Homo sapiens: one gene and its partners. The protein of the gene in region 2 purifies or fractionates together with the protein of the main gene of each other region. This does not show direct contact. Each region holds a gene or a part of one and is shown on either strand. Other genes may lie near its edges.

Evidence for each region.
Region 1: the proteins of ESF1 (region 2) and RBM34 purify together in Homo sapiens (co-immunoprecipitation; one large-scale study listed by IntAct). This does not show direct contact.
Region 3: the proteins of ESF1 (region 2) and PUM3 fractionate together in Homo sapiens (co-fractionation; one large-scale study listed by BioGRID). This does not show direct contact.
Region 4: the proteins of ESF1 (region 2) and PIP5K1A purify together in Homo sapiens (co-immunoprecipitation; one large-scale study listed by IntAct). This does not show direct contact.
Region 5: the proteins of ESF1 (region 2) and MPHOSPH10 fractionate together in Homo sapiens (co-fractionation; one large-scale study listed by BioGRID). This does not show direct contact.
Region 6: the proteins of ESF1 (region 2) and LLGL2 purify together in Homo sapiens (co-immunoprecipitation; one large-scale study listed by IntAct). This does not show direct contact.
Region 7: the proteins of ESF1 (region 2) and DDX52 fractionate together in Homo sapiens (co-fractionation; one large-scale study listed by BioGRID). This does not show direct contact.

What each region holds. Positions count from the first base shown.
Region 1 is NC_000001.11:235,130,683-235,133,966, reverse strand, and holds the end of RBM34 (RNA-binding protein 34), read left to right. Parts: intron 1-1,969; coding exon 1,970-2,254; 3' UTR 2,255-2,784; downstream 2,785-3,284.
Region 2 is NC_000020.11:13,753,920-13,757,419, forward strand, and holds part of ESF1 (ESF1 homolog), read right to left. Parts: intron 1-3,500. UniProt on the Homo sapiens protein: May constitute a novel regulatory system for basal transcription. Negatively regulates ABT1.
Region 3 is NC_000009.12:2,830,596-2,834,095, reverse strand, and holds part of PUM3 (pumilio homolog 3), read left to right. Parts: coding exon 1-65; intron 66-663; coding exon 664-739; intron 740-2,751; coding exon 2,752-2,845; intron 2,846-3,067; coding exon 3,068-3,134; intron 3,135-3,500. UniProt on the Homo sapiens protein: Inhibits the poly(ADP-ribosyl)ation activity of PARP1 and the degradation of PARP1 by CASP3 following genotoxic stress. Binds to double-stranded RNA or DNA without sequence specificity. Involved in development of the eye and of primordial germ cells.
Region 4 is NC_000001.11:151,197,227-151,201,351, forward strand, and holds the start of PIP5K1A (phosphatidylinositol 4-phosphate 5-kinase type-1 alpha), read left to right. Parts: upstream 1-1,325; 5' UTR 1,326-1,770; coding exon 1,771-1,855; exon of another isoform or gene 1,856-1,900; coding exon of another isoform or gene 1,901-1,961; intron 1,962-4,125. UniProt on the Homo sapiens protein: Catalyzes the phosphorylation of phosphatidylinositol 4-phosphate (PtdIns(4)P/PI4P) to form phosphatidylinositol 4,5-bisphosphate (PtdIns(4,5)P2/PIP2), a lipid second messenger that regulates several cellular processes such as signal transduction, vesicle trafficking, actin cytoskeleton dynamics, cell adhesion, and cell motility.
Region 5 is NC_000002.12:71,137,134-71,140,633, forward strand, and holds part of MPHOSPH10 (U3 small nucleolar ribonucleoprotein protein MPP10), read left to right. Parts: intron 1-1,356; coding exon 1,357-1,498; intron 1,499-2,661; coding exon 2,662-2,729; intron 2,730-3,500. UniProt on the Homo sapiens protein: Component of the 60-80S U3 small nucleolar ribonucleoprotein (U3 snoRNP). Required for the early cleavages during pre-18S ribosomal RNA processing. Part of the small subunit (SSU) processome, first precursor of the small eukaryotic ribosomal subunit.
Region 6 is NC_000017.11:75,528,697-75,532,196, forward strand, and holds part of LLGL2 (LLGL scribble cell polarity complex component 2), read left to right. Parts: intron 1-2,366; exon of another isoform or gene 2,367-3,500. UniProt on the Homo sapiens protein: Part of a complex with GPSM2/LGN, PRKCI/aPKC and PARD6B/Par-6, which may ensure the correct organization and orientation of bipolar spindles for normal cell division.
Region 7 is NC_000017.11:37,636,947-37,640,446, reverse strand, and holds part of DDX52 (probable ATP-dependent RNA helicase DDX52), read left to right. Parts: intron 1-878; exon of another isoform or gene 879-993; intron 994-3,500.

The DNA of each region.
Region 1 (3,284 bases), on a different chromosome or scaffold from region 2:
TGCTTAAGTACGGGAGGTCAAGGCTGTAGTGAGCCATGATTGCACCACTGCACTCCAGCCGAACTGACAGAGTGAGACCCTATCTCAAAACAAAAAAATAATCTATTGTCATCCCTTGATATCCACGGTGTATTGGTTCCAGGATCCCTCTCACATAGCAAACAGTATATATATATCTGCAGATGCTGAAGTCCCTTATATAAAATGGCACATTTGCATGAATGTATATTGTTATATATAATAAATTTTTTTATTGTCATATTATTTGTTGTTTTCAAGTATTTTCTATCTGCAGTTGATTGAATCCTCTGATACTGAACTCACGGATTTGGGGAGCTGACTGTACATACTATGTGATGTCATAAATTTTTCTTCTCTCAGTAACAACCCATTACTACATTTCCTTTCAGTTTTTCCTTGTGCTGCCATTTTTATAGTTGAACTTGTCTCTGTGAACTTAAATTATATTTACATCTTATTTTATGTTGTTTTCTGTTATGTAAGCATGTTCCATTGAGTGATATAACAGAGTTTATACTGTCATTTCTCTCATGTTGGACCTTGGTAGAATTCTCTGTTTTTCCCTGTAATAATGAAATTGCAGTGGTTATGTGTTTTTTGTTTTTGAGACAGAGTCTCACTCTGTTGCTCAGGCTGGAGTGCTTTGGCACGATCTCAGCTCACTGCAGCCTCTGCCTCCCAGGCTCTAGCGATCCTCCCATCTCAGCTTCCTGAGTAGCTAGGACTACAGGTGTGTGCCACATGTCTGGCTAATTCTTGTATTTTTTTGTAGAGACAGGATTCACCATGTTTCTCAGGCTGGTCTCCAACTTCTGAGCTCAAGTGATCTATCCGCCTTGGCCTCCCAGAGTGCTAGGATTATAGGTGTGAGCTACCCCGCCTGGCCTGGTTATGTTTTTTTCCCCAAAAGTTTGGATTGTAGATTACTTAAGATAGATCCCCATTAGGATATACTAGGTTAAGATGTGTTACCATTTTGAAGACTCTTGATGAGAATTGCCTGGTAGCTTTTTTAGAAAGATTGTCACAGCGTTTGTTGCCATTGTTACTGTATTGTAGTTACCTTTCTGCTTGTCTGCTCCCTTTCTTCTATTACTTGATAAGCTTCTAAAGTCCTTTAACAAACATCTCATGGATATTCAGGGTTGTTAGCATTAATGGCTCTATATTGGAACAGAAGTATAACAGAATTTTGGATCTAAATGGAACCCTAGAGGGTGTCTAGTCCAACATCTCGTAATGGAGCGTTCCCTGCCCTCTGGTCAGCTAATACAATGGGGCTTTGACAGAAAGATGGCTATACGAAGGAGGTTTATTCGTTTAAAATATTGCATATGGGGGCCAGGCGCGGTGGCTCATGCCTGTAATCCCAGCACTTTGGGAGGGCAAGGTGGGCAGATTACAAGGTCAAGAGATCGAGACCATTCTGGCTAACGTGGTGAAACCCTGTCTCTACTAAAAATACAAAAATTAGCTGGGTATGTTGGCCCGCGCCTGTAATCCCAGCTACTTGAGAGGTTGAGGCAAGAGAATCGCTTGAACTCAGGAGGTAGAGGTCACAGTGAGCCGAGATCGTGCCACTGCACTCCAGCCTGGCAACAGAGCGAGATTCCGTCTCAAAAAAAGAAAAAAGAAAAAAAGCCAATATTGCATATGACTAATCTAGTCTAGAACCTCATTTTACAATGAAAAAAAAAAACCACGAAGCCTGTAGCATTGTGACTTAGCTGAACATTTCACAAGGCAGCTTGAGTGCTTTCTGAGGAAACACTGGTGACGAGCATGGTGATGAGGAGACTTCGAGTGCAGCAGCTGATACACCTGGGATTGGATGGGGCTTATCTGTGCAAGCTTGAAAGTCGTTCTCATCTGTTAAAGTGACACTTTCACTAGTTTCTTTGCAGATGGGTTTCTGGTAGCAATTAATGTATTGTGTTTTCTTTTGCAGAATACAGATTCTGTTCATCTTGCTCTGAAATTAAATAATTCTGAACTCATGGGGAGAAAACTCAGAGTCATGCGTTCTGTTAATAAAGAAAAATTTAAACAACAAAATTCAAATCCACGATTGAAGAATGTCAGTAAACCTAAGCAGGGACTTAATTTTACTTCCAAAACTGCAGAAGGACATCCTAAAAGCTTATTTATTGGAGAAAAAGCTGTTCTCCTTAAAACGAAGAAGAAAGGACAGAAGAAAAGTGGACGCCCTAAGAAACAGAGAAAACAGAAATAACAACCAGGAACTGCTTTTTCTTTTCCTGCTGAGTACTGCTAATAAAAGTGCTATTATCTGCTGATAGCATCGTCTGCTATTCATGTGTTGAGTTTTATACTTCTTTATGGATGGTGTATGTGAAATGTGGAGACTTCCACATTCTCAGTTTATTCACATTGTGATACTACCTTTGAAGGTTTTTTTGTTTTTGTTTTGTTTTTTGAGATGGAGTTTGGCTGTTGTCTCCCAGGCTGGAGTGCAGTGGCGTGATCTTGGCTCACTGCAACCTCTGCCTTCTGGGTTCAAGCGCTTCTCCTGCCTCAGCCTCCCAAGTAGCTGGGATTACAGGCGCCTGCCACCACGCCTGGCTAATTTTTTGTATTTTTAGTAGAGACGGGGTTTCACCATGTTGGCCAGGCTGGTCTCGAACTCCTGACCTCAGGTGATCCACCTGCCTTGGCCTCTCAAAGTGCTGGGATTACAGGCGTGAGTCACTGCACCCAAGCCTCCTTTCTCTTTTGCCTATTAAACCTCTGCTCTTAACCTTACTCCGTGTGTGCTCAAGTTCTTGATTTCCTTGGCATGAAGCAATGAACCTTGGGTATTACCCCAAACGATGTCGCTTCAGTATCTCACTTTGTTGCCCAGGCTGCTCTCAAACTGCTGGACTCAAGTGATCCTCCCACCTTGGCCTCCCAAAGTGCTAGGATTACAGGAGTGAATCACTCATCAATTCCAAGGGGCTAGAACTCCCAGGAACTGGGGACAAAGGCCAGCCAAATTCTTTATTATGCAACCTCGTGTTACTGGAAAAGGATCCAGATCCAGACCCCAACAAAGGGTTCTTGGATCTTGCCTAAGAAAGAATTTGGGGCCAGTCCACAGAGTAAAGTGAAAACAAGTTTATTAAGAAAATAAAGAAGATCACTCACGGTGGCTCATGCCTGTAATCCCAGCACTTCGGGAGGCCGAGGTGGGTGGATCACCAGATGTCAGGAGTTTGAGACTAGCCTGGCCAACATGGTGAAACCCCATCTCTACTAAAAAT
Region 2 (3,500 bases):
TAAGTTAATCTCTCTAGTAGTCTGAGACTAACAATTCCCTTGGTGTGAAAGTGGCAACGTGCTTATAATGGAAGCATGTCTTAGTTTTTGGAAGTTACATTTTGAAGTGCTTTTTTTTACGTGTCATGGTGCTTGCAACTTTCTATCAAATATTTTAGAAAAAGAGTTGCCTCTACTTACTGTCTCTAATTCTTCTCTTCCCATTCTTCCTTCAAACCATACTACTTTCATCCCCCATCATCCCACAAAAACCATTCAATATCACCAGTGAGCTTCACACTGCTAAATCCAATGGTCATTCTCAGCCTGTATTTTATTGACCCATATTCTCACTGAAATGCCTTCTTTATTGGCAGGCTGAATACCCCGCAATTCTGAATTTCCTCCTGCTTCTCTGATAGCCTCTCCAGCTGCTCGGAATGGTCCAGGCTCATGTCCTCTACCTCTAGATGTTAGAGTGCTCCAAGGATCAGCTTTTGAACCTTTCTTTTTTACCTATATTCACTACCTTGTTGTTCTTATTCACTTTCAGAGATTTATACAATGAAGATTCTCTAATTTATATCTCTACCAGCCCTGTACTCTTAACTGTATAACCAACTGATTCCTTGGCATGTCTATTTAGGTATCAATGGGCATCTTGAACTTAATGTATGAAAAAAAAAATTCTTGATGCTCCCTTGCAAACATGTTCCATCCACAAGCTTCATTATCTGAAAATTACTCCAACAGCCATTTGATTGATCTCCCCAATTTGGTCCTTGCCCCCCACTTTAATCTACTTATCTATAGCAGCAAGAATGATCCTGTTAAATATAAAAGTCAGATTTGACTGCTCCTGAGCTCAAAACTCTCCAGTGGTTTCTCATCTCAGTCACAGAAATTCATGTCTTTATAATGGCCTACAAGGCTTTCATGTCTGGCCCCAAACTACCTCTCTGATCTCAGTTACTTCTGTCCTCCACTGTAGTCATACTGTTCTCCTTGGATTCCTCAAACACAAGAGACAAAGTATAGCTTCAAGGATACTCCTATGCTACTTCCTCTGCTCACACAGTCTTCCTGGGCCAGGCTCACTCCCTGACCTCTACTTTCTTTAGTTCCTGGTCAAATATGTTTCTTATATATCTGTCATCTGTTTAGTTTCTCCTTCACCGGAGTATAAGATCTGTGAGTTCAGGGATTTTTATGTTTTGTTCACACAGTGTATAGAATAATTCCCGGCACAGAGTAGGTATTCAGTAAGTATTTGATGGAGTAAGGAAGAGAAGTTGGGGTTCTGTAGAGTGCTGAGTAGAAAAAAGACCAGCTATCCATTTCACTAATATCTATTAGGCCAGAGATAGCTAAGAAAAACAGGACTTTTACCATAATCAAAAATTTAAGATTATAAACAAACATGCCATTATTTATTTCTGGATGGAATTTCATATATATTGTTTATATTCAGCTTGCATTATCTACAAAAAATATTATGTAGATTAACTGGACTATTAATACAGGGGAAGTTATATAAAGAGTTAAAACTGATTACACTTCATTTATACGTGTATTAGAAATTCCTCAACGAGGTACATTTCTTGATGAAGGCCCAACTGGCTAATTATATGCATCACCTTATCTACTCCTTAGTAAGTTGGCAGGATACCTTTAGCAACGCATTGAGATAGGAAATACAACTTCACATACATCAAAATAATTAAGTATAACTTTCTTTAAAAATTTTATAATTCAACATTTTTACTTATTTATAATCCTAATTAATAAAATTGTATTATTACATTTCCATAGGAACTAAAATATTGATAGAAAGAGTAGCTCATTCCAGTTGTTATGCCCACAAACCTGTTATCAGTTCCCTTAATACTTACCCTTAAGAAATTAAACTCCTCATGTTACTATACTGTATAACCCAATGTAAAAAGGTAGAACGTTTAAATAGTCTAAACTAGAATTTCTTCTGAAAAATCAAACCAAACCACAATAAATGTTAGTGATTAAGAGTACTTATTTTCCTGAAGAGGTTAATATTTTGGAGAGTCAAGCCACAGAACCAATGAATGATACGGTATAATCTCATACTGACCCTCCGTGGTTTACTGAAGCATAACATCAAAAAAGTCCTGAGGTTCAGGGTAACTGTTACAGAAAACACACATTTCTTAAGACATAAATTCACTGAAATACACGTCATGAAAGTACTTTGTAGTTTATAACGTTTGTAAGTATCTCTAAGCAAGAAAGTGGTATTATTAGTTCCAATTTCCATATGAATAAACTGAGGTACAGAAAGATTGCTCAATGATCTTATATGTATAGCACACAGAAAAACCCTTTACACTTGCATGTGCATGCGTGCATGTACATAAGGATTCACAGATAACAATACCTCATTAGGGGCCTTCAAAATATTACAGTTTAAGACCTTTGAAACTCATACATTAAAATATCAATTTTCCCCTATTCAATTAAAAGTAAAAAATATATACCCAATGTTGACGATAATTCCGTGAAACTGACACTCTTACTGATTGTTGAAGGTATTATAAGCTGGTACAACACTTCCAGAAAGCAATTTGGCAATAACTTCAAGACACAAAAAGTATTCATGCCCTTTCTTAGTAACTCTATTTCTGGGAAACTATCCTATGAAAATAATTCAAAATATGGAAAAAGCTATAGGTTATTTATAACATCCCAGATACTTGGCATCTGGGATTTAACATTTGAGGTTTTGACACTGGTAGTTTTAACAGCTTGTGAGAGAACCACAGGTTGATCTACAGCACATGTAGAGTTGCTGTGTGAGCAAGGAAGTCACGTAACTAACTAGTGAGTTAAGCCTGAATGCTAGGCATCAGCTTCTCATTGTGGCCTGGTTGTTCTCTACTAGTCCTGACATGCTTGGAAACATTTCTAGGCTGGGAGAGATGAAAAACACACCTCTGTTTTAAAAGTTTTTAAAATTAAAAGGCCCTAAAAAGGCAAGCCAATTACTTGGCTGCTCATGAAAATGAAGAAATTTAAGAAAAGCTTGTTATTTGTGGGTTTGAGATCTGTCCTATTTTTTTTTCAATGTTATAAGTCCACTGTAGTGAAAGATTAGAAATCTGATTGCATATTCAACAACAGAGAAATGGTAAATTAAACTGTAATCTTCTTAACCAGTGGTTGAATTAGGATAGTGGAATTACAGATGATAATCTTTCATTTTACATTTTCACTTCATAAGGTCAACATTACCCTAATACCAAAAACCAATACGAGGAATGAAAACTACAGATCATATTCCTCTTTGCCACAAGTACAAATATTTTTAATAAAATATTACTAAATTAAGCTGGGAATATATAAAAAGATAAGGTACCATGACCAAGGTGGGGTTTATCTGAGGAAATATAAGCAATGCTTATAACTTCCAGTTACAGATAACAGGTGTAAATACCACTTTTAGGTATTTGCCCTACATTACTATGTTTTGTTTGTTTGTTTGTTTGAGA
Region 3 (3,500 bases), on a different chromosome or scaffold from region 2:
CTCAGTGATAAAACCAACTATGACATTGTTGTTCGGGCAAAGCAGATGTGGGAGATTTTAAGAAGGTAATTCTACCTAAAGATGCCTTTGTTAGTCCCTTTGCAACAGTGGAGAAGTCAGTGTACCTTGTAAATAGTGAGATGTCCTAAAATAAATGACATAGCACTTGGGTTATTGAGGGGGTCCTCATGACACCCCATTAGAGACATCAGTACTTGGAAGTCTGCCCGTCACAGAAGTGTGTAGAATCATTATGATGGCATCGGATATGCTTATGAAAATGTATGAGGTTGAAATAAATTTGACATTCTTCCTGAGAGATTTCTGAGAAAATGAAGGACAATTTCTTATCAGCTAGATTTTGAGATACTTCAGTATTTGTTATCTTAGATTTGTTTTATTATTTTTTTTACTTCTGAAGTTCTGGCTGTTAAGATTTGGATTGATACCTAAAATTATACCTTTTGAGATGAGTTTCTGCCTTTGAGAAAATTACTTTTGTCTGGCTGCTCTGGAATAGTAATTTTAATGGCAGAGGTTTGCTGCCTTAGAAAAGAAAATCATGCTGAACTTGGAGAACATATACTGGTACAGTTTTTAATTTTGTGTGTTTAAAATAACTTCTTTATTTCAACTGTGTTTCCTTCCTCTCCTCATTTGTAGAAAAGACTGTGACAAAGAAAAAAGAGTAAAGTTAATGAGTGATTTGCAGAAGTTGATTCAAGGGAAAATTAAAACTGTAAGTAGCATATACTCATTGTTGCAATTTTTAACAGTTGAAGTTGCCTCACTCTCAGGAGTAGCTGACCATTCATGACAGATGATCTTATCATTGTTTCCGGTGTATTTGGCCAAAAGTTTTAAATATCTTCCATAACACTGAACTACATAAAAATTTAAAAGTGAGGGACCTTACTGCTAGGGAGTTTTGAAAAGATTATCAGTCTTTTCAGTCATTTTTTAATAATTCTTAAAATAAGCCAGTGTTTCCTTAAAGTTATCTTGAGAAGTTTATTAGTTCAGTAGTATTTTATAAATGTGTTGTTCTAAACTCCATATAATTTAGTATGTTCTCAATTGCCAACTTCTTTATATTTGTGATGTGAACATATTACTTCATTCTTTTCCTCCATGCTTTTGTAAACATCATGCGAAGATCTTTAACTAAAATATAATCATTTCAGAATTCTAAAGTAGTTTTCATTGTTGCTGCTTAATCCTGTTTTGTAATAAATTTCCTGTGACTCTTGTGTATTTGGATTAATACATAATGGCTTGGAAGACAACAGATTCTCATAGTTTTACGGCACCTGGAGGGGCAGCCTTTGTCAAGTCAGATGCATAGGTCTAACCAGATGCTATATTACAGTTTGAAGGAAAGTAGCAAGTCATCAGCTGCCGCTTTCTTATAAATTCAGCAGGATCTTTTTACGATAGGACTGCCCCCTCAGCTCCGACAATTTATAAATATTTCACTCAGGATTCTTTCTCAACTACCCTGAGGTCACAGCTGTATGACCATGGTGTTAGAAGTGAGTTTGGTATTCAAATCCTGGCTGGGCTGCTTAAAATATGTGTGCCTTTAAACAATAACAATAACTTCTTTATTGATTATTTACTATAGGCTAGGAATTGTGTTAACCAGCACATGCATTGTGTCGTTTACTGTATGTCATCATCCGTGTTGTATATTTGATGTATCTGGGACTCAGGGAAGTAAGATTCTTCCTCGGGGTAATAGAGATAGCGAGTTCCTTCTCATAACCTTACTTCCCTCATCTGTAAAGTGGGAATAGTAACAGCTCATTCTTATTGTTGCTTTGAGTTATAAATAAGAACACTATGTTTAAGGCATTTATGTTGATTATATAATAGGTGCTCAATATATGCACAAAAACAGCCTTATTTTTTTAAGAGATACTTAAGAGATGTCTTACAAATCTTGAAATTTATGACTTTGATGGAAGTATACACTCACCTGATTTGTTGGAATTCAGAAACTTTAGAGTGAGCAACAAATAAGCACTTTTGAAGTAGACTGGTACTGTGGCGTAGTGAAAATAATTTTGCATGATGGATGATTCGTGGAGGGCGCTCTAGAAAATTGGTCAGTGGGTCCTTCCAACAGTCATGAGGAGGAATGGGTTAGAGAATCAGATTCAAAACACAACAACTCTTCTAGAAATATAACTGGATATATGTGCAGGAATTATAATGAAAATGTGACAAATGGATGATTAACTTATTATATAATTGACAGTGTTTATGGACATAGTTGTATTTATTTCTTTAGGAAGACTTTTAGATTGATCTTACAGGTATACTTCTGGTTGCCAAAGCCAAACATTCTTAGATCACTTATATAAAAATCATACAGTAACAGACCTTTTAAACAGAAATATTTCCCTTTTAGGGACGGTAACTTATCAAAGAAATGAGAAGTATAGTCTGTATAATCATCAGATGGTTTGGTTTGCTTTGGTTTTAATTGCAATGAGAGGAGTCTTGCAAAATGGTTAAATTTATCCTTGCCTCAATGTCATTATTGTACCTATCAAATATGGTAGGCCTCAAAACAACAGAATGATGTTTTGTATAATTAAAACAAGTAGTTCTCAGTAATCTAGGTTTGATTTTATTCATGAAGACTACCTTTTTTTCTAACAAGAAATTCCAGAAGAGGTCACAATAAATTAGTGAGAAACATAAGTCTCAAAAGAGAATTAGTCTAACTCAAACTTTTTCCTGCAGATTGCATTTGCACACGATTCAACTCGTGTGATCCAGTGTTACATTCAGTATGGTAATGAAGAACAGAGAAAACAGGCTTTTGAAGAATTGCGAGGTATTTATTACATACTAAAGATTATGTTATCATTTGCAATAAGTCACTTGTTTTCTCTTAAAATACCCAAGACTGTCCTAGAAAACAATTTTTGTTTAGGTTTGTCTTCTCCAGATCCTTTTTTGTTTTTATTTTTTCCTTGCCTGGGACAAATTTCCTCCCTTTGTTTCCAGAGAACTGAAATGAGATCTGAAGTCACTGTAATGTATTTTTGTTTTTCAGATGATTTGGTTGAGTTAAGTAAAGCCAAATATTCGAGAAATATTGTTAAGAAATTTCTCATGTATGGGTAAGTTGTTTTATGTATAAAATACATTTTTTCTTTGTCTTTTGAAGACATGGTTTCCAACTGTGCTCAGATGCGAGATAGGAAGTCTGTGGTCTTTATAAGTAATAGTAATGGCTCTCAGCAGATGCTTGTGTTGTTTTTAGAGAGTATCATCTTAAATACAATTATCGAAATTAATGTAAAATTATGGTACTGCCTTCATTCCTAAAAAGATACATGAGAAATGTCCTGCAAATCTCCTTGAAATTTATGACTTTGATGGAGGTATACCCTCACCTTCTGATTTGTTGGCATTCAAAAGTTTTAAAGACAGAGTGAGCAACAGATAAGCACTTTTGAAGTAGACTGGTATTGTAGCATAGTAAA
Region 4 (4,125 bases), on a different chromosome or scaffold from region 2:
GAAAGAGGATAACCAGGTCATTCTGGGGGTTACAAAACCTGTTTTTTTTGTTTGTTTGTTTTGTTTTGTTTTGAGACAGTTTCGCTCTGTCGTCCAGGCTAGAGTGCAGTGGCGCGATCTCCGCTCACTGCAAGCTCCGCCTCCCAGGTTCATGCCATTCTCCTGCCCCAGGCTCCCGAGTAGCCTGGGACTACAGGCGCCCGCCACCACGCCCGGCTAATTTTTTGTATTTTTAGTAGAGACGGGGTTTCACCGTGTTAGCCAGGATGGTCTCGATCTCCTGGCCTCGTGATCCACCCGCCTCGGCCTCCCAGAGTGCTGGGATTACAGGCGTGAGCCACCGCGCCCGGCCACAAAACCTGTTTTAATGGAGTTATTTCATGGGCCATGAGTTTGAGAGGATCTATCTGACCGACTCTTACCCCGAATGTTTTACCATTCCTCTTTATTTATTCATTCCACAGATAATTATGGAGCCCCTACTATGTACGAAGTCACTGGAGGAGCTGGAGATACAAGAGTGAACCAAACACAGTCCTTGCTCCCCAGAAGTTTTACAGTCTGCTCAGAGAGACTGGTCTTCCCACCAGGGTTCATAGCCTACGGGGTACTTTGTTAAAAACGAGCAGTTACTACGAAGACTACAATGGGAGAAATTTTTCTGTGTATCTCCATGCCCTTTGGAGCACAGATAATTGACAGTTGGAGGCTAAAGGGGTTGGGTCGCGGGAAGGTTGTGATAAGTCCCTGATAGCCTCCCGTGCCCTTTTTTGACAGGTCTTCACTGATTCATGCATCAAATATTTACTGAACTCCGTCACTGTGCAGTGCCTAACTTTGTGCTTGAGGCAAACAAAACACAGATCTATTTCGAATGCCATTCCGAGGAAGGTAAGACATGCACGCACGTTTAATCAAATAGTAAACAAGAGTAGTAAAACAGGAAAAAGACTAAGAAGAGTTCTTGGTGGTATTAAATGTTTTGTGATATTCGACACCTTAACGTCTCTGACTTGACACCAGTACTCCCGCAGAGAGTTCTTTCCTGGGTTAGGAATTTCAGAGGACTTGGCGGACCGACTCTTGTCCCGAGTTCAGATCACTCGACCCAGTCCTAGCAAAGAACTGAACCTAAGAGGACCTGCCGAGCCACCGTAGGGACTGTCGGCCAACCCGCGCGCGCACATCTTCCACCCGTGGACTCGTCAGGGCGTGAGGACCCACCTCACGTGACCATTAGCAGCCTCCCGATTGGTTTTGCTCCTTTTTTCTCCCCAATGAGTGGGCTGATGCCCCGAGAAGGTCGGGCGCATGCGCAGTGCTCGGATTTTTTGCTTGGCTACCCGGAGTGAAGCGGCCGGGTTGGGCGATTAACAGGCCGTGGTTAGGAAGGACGGAGAAGGGGCGTTCGCTCCTTTGGGACTTTTCATGCCTCGTTTTTTTTTCAGATGTGGCTTGGTCTGGGCGCAAGGTCCCAGCAGCCAGCTTAAGCTTACTCTTCTGTGAAAGGGGAAAGTATCCCCTGTGGAAAGCGGTTAAACTTGTGGAGGGGGTGCGGGACGTGAGTTCTTCCCCATGCCAGGCGAATGGTGTGGCCTTGAGCTGGTCCAGGAGCCGGCTCGACGTGTCTGAGGGAGGCCCCGGAGGGGGCGGGGAGGTGGCCCACAGAACGCGGGTTCTGTAAAGAGACGTTGGGAAGATTCGATTCCGAGAAGAGGAAGAACCGGATTGAAAGAGAGCCAGGCCGCTGAGGGGGAGGGGGCTGCTAAGATGGCGTCGGCCTCCTCCGGGCCGTCGTCTTCGGTCGGTTTTTCATCCTTTGATCCCGCGGTCCCTTCCTGTACCTTGTCCTCAGGTAAGCCCGGCAGGGCGTGGGTAGGGAGCTGGTGAGGAATATGCGATGGGAGGAAGAGCGAGACCTAAGAGGGTACCTGTAGCTGGGAATGTCCTACGTGTTACCGGTAAGTGGGCGCGAGCTGGGCTTTCAAATAGGGATTTATGAGCGGGCAGGAGTTTGAGGAAAGGATAAGTTTGATTAAGAAGTTGTCGAAAACTTTGGTTGTCTTTGAGGAGGACGGATGGAGATTGAAGGTGGGGGTAGGGTGGCCCGGCGCGGTGGCTCACGCCTGTAATCTCAGCACTTTGGGAGGCCTTGGCGGGCGGATCATTTGAGGTCAGAAGTTCGAGACGAGCCTGGCCAACATAGAGAAATCTCGTCCCTACTAAAAATACAAAAATTATCCGGACAGTAGTGGCGTGCATCTGTAATCCCAGCTACTTGGGAGGCTGAGGCAGGATAATCCCTTGAGCCTGGGAGGCAGAGCTTGCGGTGAGCCGAGATTGGGCCACTGCTCTCCAGTCTGGGCGAGAGAGTGAGACCCTGTCTCAAAAAAAAAAAAAAAGAAGTTGCGGTAGGAAACAAGAGAAACGGAAGGGAGTAGAGAAACTAAGAAAGTAAATGGAGGCCTAAGAAGTAGAGAGAACTACTTAGTGTGAGAGGCAGGTGGAATCTAAGTTGATTGTGGGCTAATTGGATGAAAATGTTGAAGAGAAGCCATGGGACTTAAAAGATATCGAAAAGTTATTGGACGCTTTCGATTTCTGGAGAGGTAGGGAATCGTGAATTTTGTTGGGTGGGCGGGAGTTGTTGAAGCCATCTTTTCCCTCAGATACTCCCCCCTAATGTGTCACCCCTTCTCACTTCGCACCCCCACCCTTAGGGCCGCACAGGCACACAGACACACATACATACTTTCTCAGACTAATTCCTTTGGTGATTCCCAACTCTAAACTGCCCAACTTTGGGAAGGAATGGAAATTTTGAAGAGAGTCTAAGGAATGTAGGAAATTAAGGTCAAAGACCTTAAAAACAGATGGGAAAGATGGAATGGAGTCTTGAATTGCAGTAGAGACTGCGAGAAGTGATGTTTTGGAAATTAGGCCTGAGAAGAAGAAAGATGGGTGGGGGGGTGACTGTAAGTGTTGTGGGGGAGTATTGCATAATAGAAAAATGGACTGGAAGAATGCTTACGCTGTATCAGGAGATTGGAATTTGGAGAATGGAGCCAGGTTAATGTAGAGAGCTCAGCGTATTAATAGTTAAAAACGAATGAAGATTGAGGGAGGGCTGAGGAGGCTCACAAGAAAAGCAGTAGATTGTGTGTAGGGGAGAAAGTGTGTGTATGTGTGTCGGGTGGGGGGGCGGGAGGTGAGTCAGAAACTGAGCGCTTCCATCAGAAGTGTCTGGTGTTTCACAGTAACTGCTGCTTCTACACTGGAATAGACGCTGCCAGATGTTGGATGCTTTGCTTGAGATTTTGGTATTTCCTCAGGCCTGGTGTTGCGTTTTTGCTGTTTAGAATTTGCTGAATAGGGTTCCTTCCACCTTTCACATTCCAGCTCAGATGCTGAAATATCTAGTCACACATATCTTCTTAATAAGCTGCAGTTTTATTTATTTTTAATAAATCTCTATTTTTAGTTTGTTGAGAGGGGATTTTTTACCTTTCCTATAAAAGTATTAGGGGACCAGAACAACTCATGCTGCATTATAAGCATGAAATAGGATAAAGTAAAAGTGACAGGGTATTTATTTATTTATTTATTTATTTATTTATTTTTGAGACGGAGTCTCGCTCTGTCGCCCAGGCTGGAGTGCAGTGGGGCCATCTCGGCTCACTGCAAGCTCTGCCTCCCGGGTTCACGCCATTCTTTTGCCTCAGCCTCCCGAGTAGCTGGGACTACAGGCGCCCACCACCACGCCTGGCTAATTTTGTTTTTTGTATTTTTAGTAGAGACGGGGTTTCACCGTGTTAGCCAGGATGGTCTCGATCTCCTGACCCTGTGATCCGCCCGCCTTGGCTTCCCAAAGTGCTGGGATTATAGGCGTGAGCCACCGTGCCCCACCTGGGTTTTTATTTTTAATAGAGTAGCTCCTTAATTTGAAACCTGCTTCCCCTCTAATCCCCAACCCAGAAAGAAGAAGGGTTGTGTATGGTCCATAAACAAACTTCTCAACTATTAAGTCAGGTGTTTGCTTTGTACTCTTTGGTATTTTTGTAGGTCTTTATGTTTTCTGTCAGATCCTCTCACTAACAGTTAATAATACAGATTGTATAAATGTTT
Region 5 (3,500 bases), on a different chromosome or scaffold from region 2:
GAAAGACATTTGATAAAATTCAATATTCATTTCTAATTTTTTTTTTCACTCCTAGCGGAATATAAATACATTTAAGCCAAAAACTGCCATCATGCATGATGCATGCATCATTCTAGAAACATCCCTTTAAGATCAGGAATAAGACAAGATGTCCAGTATTACAATTACCACTGTTGATTAACATTCTTTTAGACGCATAGGCCAGTGTAACTACAAAAGATAAAGATAAGAGATGAGGAAAACTGCCAGGTGCGGTGGCTCATGCCTGTAATCCCAACACTTTGGGAGACCAAGGCAGGAGGATTGCTTGAGCTCAGGAGTTCGAGACCAGCCTGGGCAACATGGTAAGACCTCGTCTCTACAAAAAATACAAAAATTAGTCAGGCGTGGTTGCACGCGCCTGTGGTCCCAGTTATTTGGGAGTCCAAGGTAAGAGGATTGCTTGAGCCTAGGAGGTGGAGGTTGCAGTGAGCTGAGATCACGCAACTGCTCTCCAGCCTAGGCAACTGAGCGAGACTGTCTCAAAAAAAAAAAAAAAAAAAAAAGATTAGGAATACTGCAGATGTATTTATATTCCACTAAGAGTGAAAAATGAAAGTGTTGGTATTTGGAGAGGAAACCGAATGGATAAACTGAATTGATATTAGGAAAATAAGAGAATTCTGTAAGGTAGCTGAAAAGGCTGGCATTTTATACACTGAAGTCATCATTGTTGTCTTTTAAAAGTTAGAGATAATGGCCAGGCATGGTGGCTCACGCCTGTAATCCCAGCACTTGGTGAAACCCCGTCTCTACTAAAAAATACAAAAATTAGCCGGGCGTGGTGGCACACGCCTGTAATTCCAGCTACTCGGGAGGCTGAGGCAGGAGAATTGCTCAGGAGACGGAGGTTGCAGTGAGCTGAGATCACACCACTGCACTCCAGCCTAGGCGACAGAGCGAGACTCTGCTTCAAAAAAATTTTAAAAAAAGAAGTTAGAGTAAGAATTTGAGTTTGGAGTCAAAAGGGTCAGACTCCATCAGATACTAATATTCTAATCAAAGAATTACTTGACTTGCGAATAGATAGATCACTTGAATAGAATAGAGCCCAGAAACAAACTCAAAAGCTTCTGGGGGCGTTTAGTATATTATAAACATGGCATTTTAAATTAATCAGGAAAAGAAATTGTTTGCAGCTCACCCCACCATAGGCAGCAGAAATAGGAAGTCATCGACAGAATAAAAAGATGGCAAGAACAGAATCGTAGAACAGTACGTTTCTTGCTTTCCCACTTTTTAAATTATTTTTTGCTTTTACACAAATATAAGATTTTATTTTCTAAATGTATACTAGTTATTTTATCTCTTTCTTAGATGAATGAAAAAATTGCATCTTTAGAAAAAGAGTTGTTAGAAAAAAAGCCGTGGCAGCTTCAGGGGGAAGTGACAGCACAGAAGAGGCCAGAGAACAGCCTCCTGGAGGAGACCCTACACTTTGACCATGCTGTCCGGATGGGTATGGTGCCCTCTTCTGTAGTTTTCATGTCTGTGCTTTTTCCATGGTTCCATTTCATACAAAGATTTGGGGTGGTGTTTCTTTTCCCTCAACTTTTTATTTTAAAAACTTGTAAACACATGGCTTGGCATGGTAGCTCACACCTGTAATCCCGGCACTTTGGGAGGCCGAGGCAGACGGATCACCTGAGGTCAGGAGTTTGAGACCAGCCTGGCCAACATGGTGAAACCCCGTCTCTACTAAAAATACAAAAATCAGCCAGATACGGTGGCAGATTTCAGAATCCCATCTACTCGGAAGGCTGAGGCAGGAGAATTGCTTGAACCCAGAAAGGGGAGGTTGCAGTGAGCCAAGGTTGTGCCAGTGTGCTCCAGCGTGGGCAGCCTGGGCAACAGAGCGACACTCTGTCAAAAAAGAAAAAATCAACTTATAAACACAGAAGAGTTGAAAAAATACTACAGTGAACACCTATATGCTATTCAATTGGATTCACCAGTTACCATTTTGTTATATTTGCTTTCTCTCCCTAGCATATGTAAGATTGTATATGTGCCCTTTTTTTAAGTAAGTTGCCAATCTCATGGCACTTCACTTTTAAGTACTTTTGCAGATATCGTCTAAGAACTAGGACATTCTCCTATGTAATCACAGTACCATTAATCCACCCAAAAAATTTAACAATACGCTAATGATACCTAATGTATAGTTTGTAATCAGCTTTCTTGTAGTAATCTGTTTTGAAGGCTTGCATCCTGTCATGGTCCACTGATTAAATTTTGAACTTCAACCTGAAACTGTGGTCATCTCATTGACTTCTTTCTTGTACCCATTACATCAAAATGAGTTTTCATTTTATTTCAATGGAAGAGAGAATGGAAAAGAGGGGAAGAGTCCCTGGGTACCTTGGGTAAAGTATTAGCACTTACTACCATATGTATCCTAGTTTTGTGGTTTTCAAACTTCAGGGAGCATCACAAGGCTTGTTAAAGCACAGATAGCTGTCCCTCTTCCCCACTTTCTGATTCAGGAAGTATGGGGGTGGCCCAGGAATTTGCATTTCTAACAAGTTCCCACGTGTTGCTGATGCTGTGGGTCCAAGGACTGCACTGAATCAATGGTCTAGTGGATATCTACCTAATGAATAAACGTTGTATATCCTTTAGCACCTGTGATTACAGAGGAAACCACCCTTCAACTGGAAGATATCATTAAACAGAGGATAAGAGATCAGGTCAGTAAGAATTAAATTTAACTTAATCAAAATGTCACCAAGATTTTTAGAAATAATGTGAGAGTACTTTGAGAGTAGGACTATTGCTTTTTATTTTCACTTAGTGTTCACAAACCTTAAATCTAGGCTACCTAGTCAGCTTTTGTTGTGTGAGGTACTGCTCTTCAGTAGTATCCAGGAAAGACGAGTATTGTGCCTGAGAGGAGCAAGAAGCCATTATCCTTTCTCGTGAGTCTTGCTGACCTTTTGGGCGGTGCTCAGTGAAGCTGGTGGCTGACCTGTGATGGTTGCACCCAGAACCCTTGGCTTAGGCACAGTATCTGGTGTGGTAAATTATTCAGTATATATGTCCTAGTCTTTTTTCTGTTACTTATAACAGAATATCTGAAGCTGGGTGACTTAAAAGGAATACAGTTATGGAGGCTGAGAAGTCCAAGGTCGAGGGGCCTTCTTACCAGTGGGGATTCCGCAGAGTCCCAAGGTGGTGCAGGGCATCACATGGTGAAAGGGCTGAGCATGCTAAGATGCTGGCTCAGGTGTCTCTTGCTCTTCTTAAGAGCCACCATTCCCCCACTGATGATAACCCATTAATCCATAAATGCAACTGCCATTCATGAGGGCAAAACCCTGGTGATCCAGTCACGTCCTAGAAGGCCCCACATCTGAGTGTTGCCACATCAGGGATTAAGTTTCCACATGAGTTTTGGAGGGGACATTCAAACCCTAGCATTGTGGTAGTTCTACAATTTTAAAACCATTTCTCAATGGTGT
Region 6 (3,500 bases), on a different chromosome or scaffold from region 2:
CATTGCACTCCAGCCTGAGCAACAAGAGCAAAACTCCATCTCAAAACAAACAAACAAACAAAAAATGGCCCATAATCCCAGGTGATCGCTGTTCATTTAAAAAATAGAAAAGGCAATAGGAGCCCATAGTGGGAAAAAGGAAACATTGTAGAAAGTGTAAAATTAGAGAGCAAAAAATTAGGCCGGGCAAGGTGGCTTATGCCTGTAATCCCAACACTTTGGGAGGCGGAAGCAGGCGGATCACAAGGTCAGGAGTTCGAGACTAGCCTTGCCCACACAGTGAAACCGGTCTCTACTTAAAAATGCAAAATTAGCCAGGCGTGGTGGTGAGCGCCTGTAATCCCAGCTACTCAGGAGGCTGAGGCAGGAGAATCGCTTGAACCCAGGAGGCAGAGGTTGCAGTGAGCCGAGATCGTGCGATTGCACTCCAGCCTGGGCAATAGAGTGAGACTGTCTCAAAAAAAAAGAGAGCAAAAAATTATCCCTCCTGCCTGACAGTCCTTTTCTTTTTTTTTCTTTGAGACGAAGTCTCCTCTGTCGCCCAGGATGGAGCACAGTGGCGTGATCTCAGCTCACTGCAACCTCTGCCTCCCAGGTTCAAGCAGTTCTCCTGCCTCAGCATCCTGAGTAGCTGGGATTGCAGGCAGGCACCACCAGGCCCAGCTAATTTTTGTATTTTTGTATTTTTTGTAGAGACAGGGTTTCATCATGTTGGCCAGGCTGGTCTTGAACTCCTGACTTCAAGTGATCTGCCTGCCTCAGCCTCTCAAAGTGCTGGGATTACAGGCATGAGCCACTGCACCCGGCCCCTGCCAGTCCTTTTATCTTCATCCTTCATCCTTCTATCCTTCATCTCTTTAAAAACAAAAAATAAAAAAAAATTAGGCCGGGCTCTGTGTCTCACGCCTGTAATCCCAGCACTTTGGGAGACCGAGGCAGACGGATCATGAGGTCAGGAGATCGAGACCATCCTGGCCAAGATGGTGAAACCCCATCTCTACTAAAAATACAAAAATTAGCTGGGCGTGGTGGTGCGTGCCTGTAATCCCAGCTACTCAGGAGGCTGAGGCAGGAGAATCGCTGGAACCCAGGAGGCGGAGGTTGCAGTGAGCCGAGATCGCGCCACTGCACTCCAGCCTGGTGACAGAGCAAGACTCCGTCTCAAACTAATAATAATAATAATTTTTAAAAAAAGATTTTTAGTGTCTTTCTAGGCTTCAGGTGTAGTTTTGACTCGTTCTTTGCCGAGTCCTTGCTGTGTGACCCTAGTGTGGTCACTGACCCGTGCTGAGCTTTGTTTTCACAGATGAGAAGATGAGAAAGGTCACTAGCACGTGTGGCCTGCCACACAGCAGGCACCCAGTGAGGGTGGACTCAACTTCCATGAAGCATAAGAGGCATCCGTCTGTCCCAGGCCTTTGGGTGGGCACTTGGGCCTTTTGGAAGTGCCTGATGGGTTTAGGGAATTTGTCTTCTCTGGAAATCAGCTGACGGCTCATGAATTTGTGATATTTTAAAGTCTCTGGCTGGGCATTTTGGCTCATGCCTGTAATCCCAGTGCTTTGGGAGGTGGAGGAGGGAGGATTGCTTGAACCCAGGAGTTCAAGACCAGCCTGGGCAACAGTGAGATCGCGTCTCTACAAAAATTTTTTTAAAAAATTAGCTGGGCATCAGCCAGGCGCGGTGTCTCACGCCTGTAATTCCAGCACTTTGGGAGGCCGAGGCAGGCGGATCACGAGGTCAGGAGATCGAGACCATCCTGGCTAGCACAGTGAAAACATGTCTCTACTAAAAATACAAAAAATTAGCTGGGCATGGTGGTGGGCACCTGTAGTCCCAGCTGCTCGGGAGGCTGAGGCAGGAGAATGGTGTGAACCCGGGAGGCAGAGCTGGCAGTGAGCCGAGATCGCGCCACTGCACTCCAGCCTGGGCGACAGAGCGAGACTCCATTTCAAAAAAAAAAAAAAAAATTAGCTGGGCATCGTGGTGTGCACCTGTTGTCCCAATTACATGGGATCGTAGGAGGATCGCTTGAGCCCAAGAGTTTGAGGCTGCAGTGAACTATGATGGCGCCACTGCACTCCAGCCTGGGTGACAGAGTGAGACTCTAACTCAAAAAGAGAAAAAAAGTCTCTAGGGGTCAGAAGTTTTTCAGCGAGGACCTTTTTCAGGAATTGAGGGCAGCAGTGGAGGGCGCGGCTTCTCCTAAATGGACCTTGCATTCCAGTGGCCCTTGATGCTTCCCTTGCTCCTTGGGAGGGCCAAGAGTGAGAGCCGGTTGCCTGGGAGTCTTTCCTGTGGTGGGGATGTCGGAGAGTGCAGGATTAAACCTGCTGTGAGTTCTGCCCCAGCTGAGGAGTGCTTGCTGGGTACACCCTCCTCACCCTGCTGGGTGGCAGGGCAGAGAGCACAGGCCTGTGCTGCTCTGTTGGCATTAGGAGACTTTCTAGGAATGCCATTGTGCCCCCTTTCAACCTTGCTTGGGGAGAGGATGTCCTCTCCTGCCAGGACTTCCTGGCCCCGGGACCCTCCCTTTGGAAGACGAAGTGCTGCCTGGGACCAGGTGGCCCATGAGCCCCTGCCCGCACTGTGGGAGATCTGCGCATCTCTGGCAAGAGCCTCCAGGAGCCATCTAAGGAGTTTAGTTTCCCCGGGGAGCTATTCGGCCTTCCTGGTCTTTCCAGATGAGTCAAAAGCAGCTGTTGAGACCTCTGAGTTGGGGGCCAGAATGGAGGCCCAAGAGACCAATGTTCTTTCTCCTGGGCCGGCTGCTTTGAGCAGCACTGGCAGCCTGGACTCATTTGTCCTCAATCCTCAACTCTGAGAGGCCCTCTTATCTGTCTTAGGTGATATCGTTCTCAGGGTTCCTCCTGGGGCGAGGCACGCCAGGTCTGCTTGGCAACGCTGTTTTCCTCTGTCAGGAGCAGTTTGCAGAGAGAAAACTGGGGACAGGGCAGGAGACGGGCGTCCCCCAGCGGGGCCACCAGCACTGTTTGCCCTCCCCAGCCCTGGCTCCCTAGGAATTCCAAGGAGACCCTCGCTCACTGTGCCCGTGGCCATGGCTTTGCTCAGGTCCCTTTGGGGTGGCCTTCCCCACAGCCCTGCCTCTCAGAGGAAACTGGCTTTGAATACTCACCCCTCTCTTCTTCCCAGGAACCACAGCGAATTCTTGAGCTAGGAGAGGCTGCTCTGGGCGTGGGGACGAGGAGGCTGCAAGGCACCTGACTCTACCCTTCAGGAATTCGGCAGAGACTGGAGCCTTCTCTCGAGACACCTGACTTAGTGTTCCCAGAGTTTGATGAGAGGGACATCTGGGCACAGGACCATATGACTGTAATAAATTATATATATGTATATATACACACACACACACACACACACTTTTTTTTTTTTTTTTTTTTTGAGACGGAGTCTTACTCTGTGGCCCAGGTTGGAGTGCAATGGCATGATTTCGGCTCACTGCAGTCTCCCCAGGTTCAAGTGATTCTCCCACCTCAGCC
Region 7 (3,500 bases), on a different chromosome or scaffold from region 2:
CCTCATACTTTGTTTATATACTTTGATTATTTTATATACACTCTGTTGGGAACCTCTGCTACTACCTTCCCCTTTTTTAAAAACAATGTATCTTGGAGGTTGTTTGGAATCAGTAGGAAGTACATTGCCTTGTTCATTTTAACACAGCATTGTATCCCATTGTGTGTATTGCATAATTGATTTAACAAGTTCCTGTGTGATGGATAATTATAGTTTGTTTTCACATTTTTGCTGTTGTAGTTTTGCAGTGTCATTCTACTTATCTTTGCATGTATATGTGAGTATATCTGTCCCATAAATTCTTAGAAGTGGAATTGCAGAGTTAACAAATAGATGTATCCACCAGAAACACTGCATCAGTAGGAAGTACTTTGCCTTGTTCATTGTAACACAGCATAGTAGCCCATCATACATTGTAGGGATGCCCCATGATCAATTTGACATGTTACTGTGTGGGCATTTAGTACATTGTTTGCATGCTTTTGCTGTTAAGTGCTGCAGTAAAAGTCATTCTTCCCTGGCTGCAAGGAAGTTTGATAAAACCTTTACCAATAAGAAAGACACGCCACAAACTTAGGAAAAGGATTCAAATTTTGGGCCACCAGAAATATACAGCTATGTACTGTAACCATTGTGGCAACAAATGTATTTAGGCCGTAGATCTATGATAAATGTGTAGGCATGTATCAATTTTTTTTTTTTTTTTGAGACTGAGTCTCACTCTGTGGCTGGGGCTGGAGTGCAGTGGCGCGATCTTGGCACACTGCAAGCTCTGCCTCCTGGGTTCACGCCATTCTGCTGCCTCAGCCTCCCGAGTAGCTGGGACTACAGGTGCCCGACACCACGCCCAGCTAATTTTGTTTTTGTATTTTTATTAGAGACAGGGTTTCACCATGTTAGCCAGTATGGTCTCGATCTCCTGACCTCGTGATTCACCCACCTTGGGCTCCCAAAGTGCTGGGATTACAGATGTGAGCCACCACGCCCAGCCAGGCATGTATCTATTTTTAACTGGAAAATTGAATAGCTTGTGAATTAGTAATGATTTGGGTCATTTAGTACCAACTGTCTCATAAAGGGAACAAAATTTTTTTAAAGTTATTCTACTTTGCGATGCCTTCCAGCAAGGTATGAGACTTTTCTCTTTTTGTAAATTTGTCTCTTCGTGTACGTTGTACCCTTATTGTATTACATTGTTCCCTTATCATATTACGTTCTTCTGTTTCTTCTTAATTTATTAAACCTCATATATTGAGGAAATTAGCTCTATGTCTGCCATATTATGTTTACAAATATGTTTCCAGATTGTCATATGTCACTTGTCTTATTTATTTACTTTTTGGCCTTCTGCGCATTACGTTTTTTTAAAATTCTAGGCTGGGTGCAGTGGCTCACTTCTGTAATCCCAACACTTTGGGAGGCGGAGGCGGGCTGACCACTTGAGGTCGGGAGTTTGAGACCAGCCTGGCCAACATGGTGAAACTCCGTCTCTACTAAAAATATAAAAAAATTAGCCAGATATGGTGGTGCACGCCTGTAATCCCAGCTATTTGGGAGGCTGAGGCAGGAAAATCGCTTGAACCCAGGAGGTGGAGGTTGCAGTGAGCTGAGATCATGCCTCTGCATTCCAGCCTGGGTGACAGAGCAAGACTCTGTCTCAAAAAAAAAAAAAAAAAGAAAAAAAACAACTTCCATGTTTTCTTATTTGTAGTTTCAATTTGTTATATTAAAATCTTTGACCCTGTGAAATTTTATTTGGTATAAGGAGTGAATAGGGAACTAAAATTTTTTTCAGATGTCTGAATAATTGTCTTAATAACATAATTGTCTTAATACCATATGTTGGTGTTTTATCTTATGTTGACTAATTGTCTTAATACCATATGTTGATAATCCGTGTTTTCTCTATTGGACTTTAACGCAACTTTAATTGTATACTTATTTTCCATATACATTCAAGTCTGTCTCTGGACCTCTTCTATTCTGTTTCTGTATTTGTACACCAATACTAGCTTGTTTTAAATACTATGGCCTTATATGTTATAAAATCCAGTAGAGTGGAGAGGCATACCAATATTTTAGGCAACTCAATGTTTTCTCCCTACAGTGATCTACAGAATCATTGCAATCCCAATTAGAATTCTAGCAGAATTTTTTTTGTAGAAATTTCTACTAAAGCTTTGGCTAACTTTCTTCAGACACTCTCATAATAAGCAGATACTACTCTTTGGCCTTCCAGAAAGTCAACAAGTGAAGTGCCTTGAGCATCCAAAAAACCTGTTGCTGTTGCCTTTGCTCTTGACTGGTCAACTTTTGCTTTGACTGGACCACTTCCACCTCTTGGTAGCCATTGGTTTAATTGTGCTTTGTCTTTATGATCAAACTGGTAAAACCATGTTTCATCTTCTGTTACAGTTCTTCAAAGAAATGCTTTAGGACCTTGATTCCACTTGTTTAAAATTTCTTTTGAAATCTCTGCTCTTGTCTGCAGCTGATTTGGGAGCAGTGGTTTTGGCACCCATCATATGGAAAATTTGCTCAACTAATTTTTCATTAAGAATTGGTGGGAAGAAGGCTGGGCGTGGTGGCTCATGCTTGTAATCCCAGCACTTTGGGATGCCGAGGTGGGTGGATCACCTGAGGTTAGGAGTTCGAAACCAGCCTGGCCAACATGGTGAAATCCCGTCTCTACTAAAAATACAAAATTAGCCGGGCGTGGTGGCGCATGCCTATAATCTCAGCTACCTGGGAGGCTGAGGCAGGAGAATCGCTTGAACCTGGGAGGCAGAGGTTGCAGTGAGCCGAGATCACGCCATTGCACTCCAGCCTGGGCAACAAGAGTGAAACTCGGTCTCAAAAACAAACAACAAAACAAAGAATTGGTAGGGAGGCCAGGAGCAGTGGCTCACCTATAATGCCAGTGCTTTGGGAAGCTGAGGTAGGAGGATCAGTTGAGGCCAGGAATTTTGAGACCAGCTTGGGCAACATAGCAAGACTCCATCTATACAAAAAATAGGGCCAGGAGCAGTGGCTCATGCCTATAATCCCAGTACTTTGGGAGGCTGAGGTGGGTGGATCACCTGAGGTTAGGAGTTCGAAACCAGCCTGGCCAACATGGTGAAACCCCGTCTCTACTAAAAATACAAAATTAGCCGGACGTGGTGGCGCATGCCTGTAATCTCACCTACCTGGGAGGCTAAGGCAGGAGAATCACTTGAACCTGGGAGGCGGAGGTTGCAGTGAGCCGAAGCCGAGATCACACCACTGCACTCCAGCCTGGGTGACACAGTAAGACTCCAAAAAGAAAAAAAAAAATTAGCTGCACGTGGTAGCACATGTCTGTAGTCCCAGCTACTTGGGAGGCTGAGACAGGAGGATTGCTTTAGCCCAAGAGTGTGAGGTTACAGTGAGCTGTGATCATGCCTGTATACTCTAGCCTGGCTGACAGAACAAAACCCTATCTTGAAAAAAATATATATGTGGTGTAAGCCAAACCATAT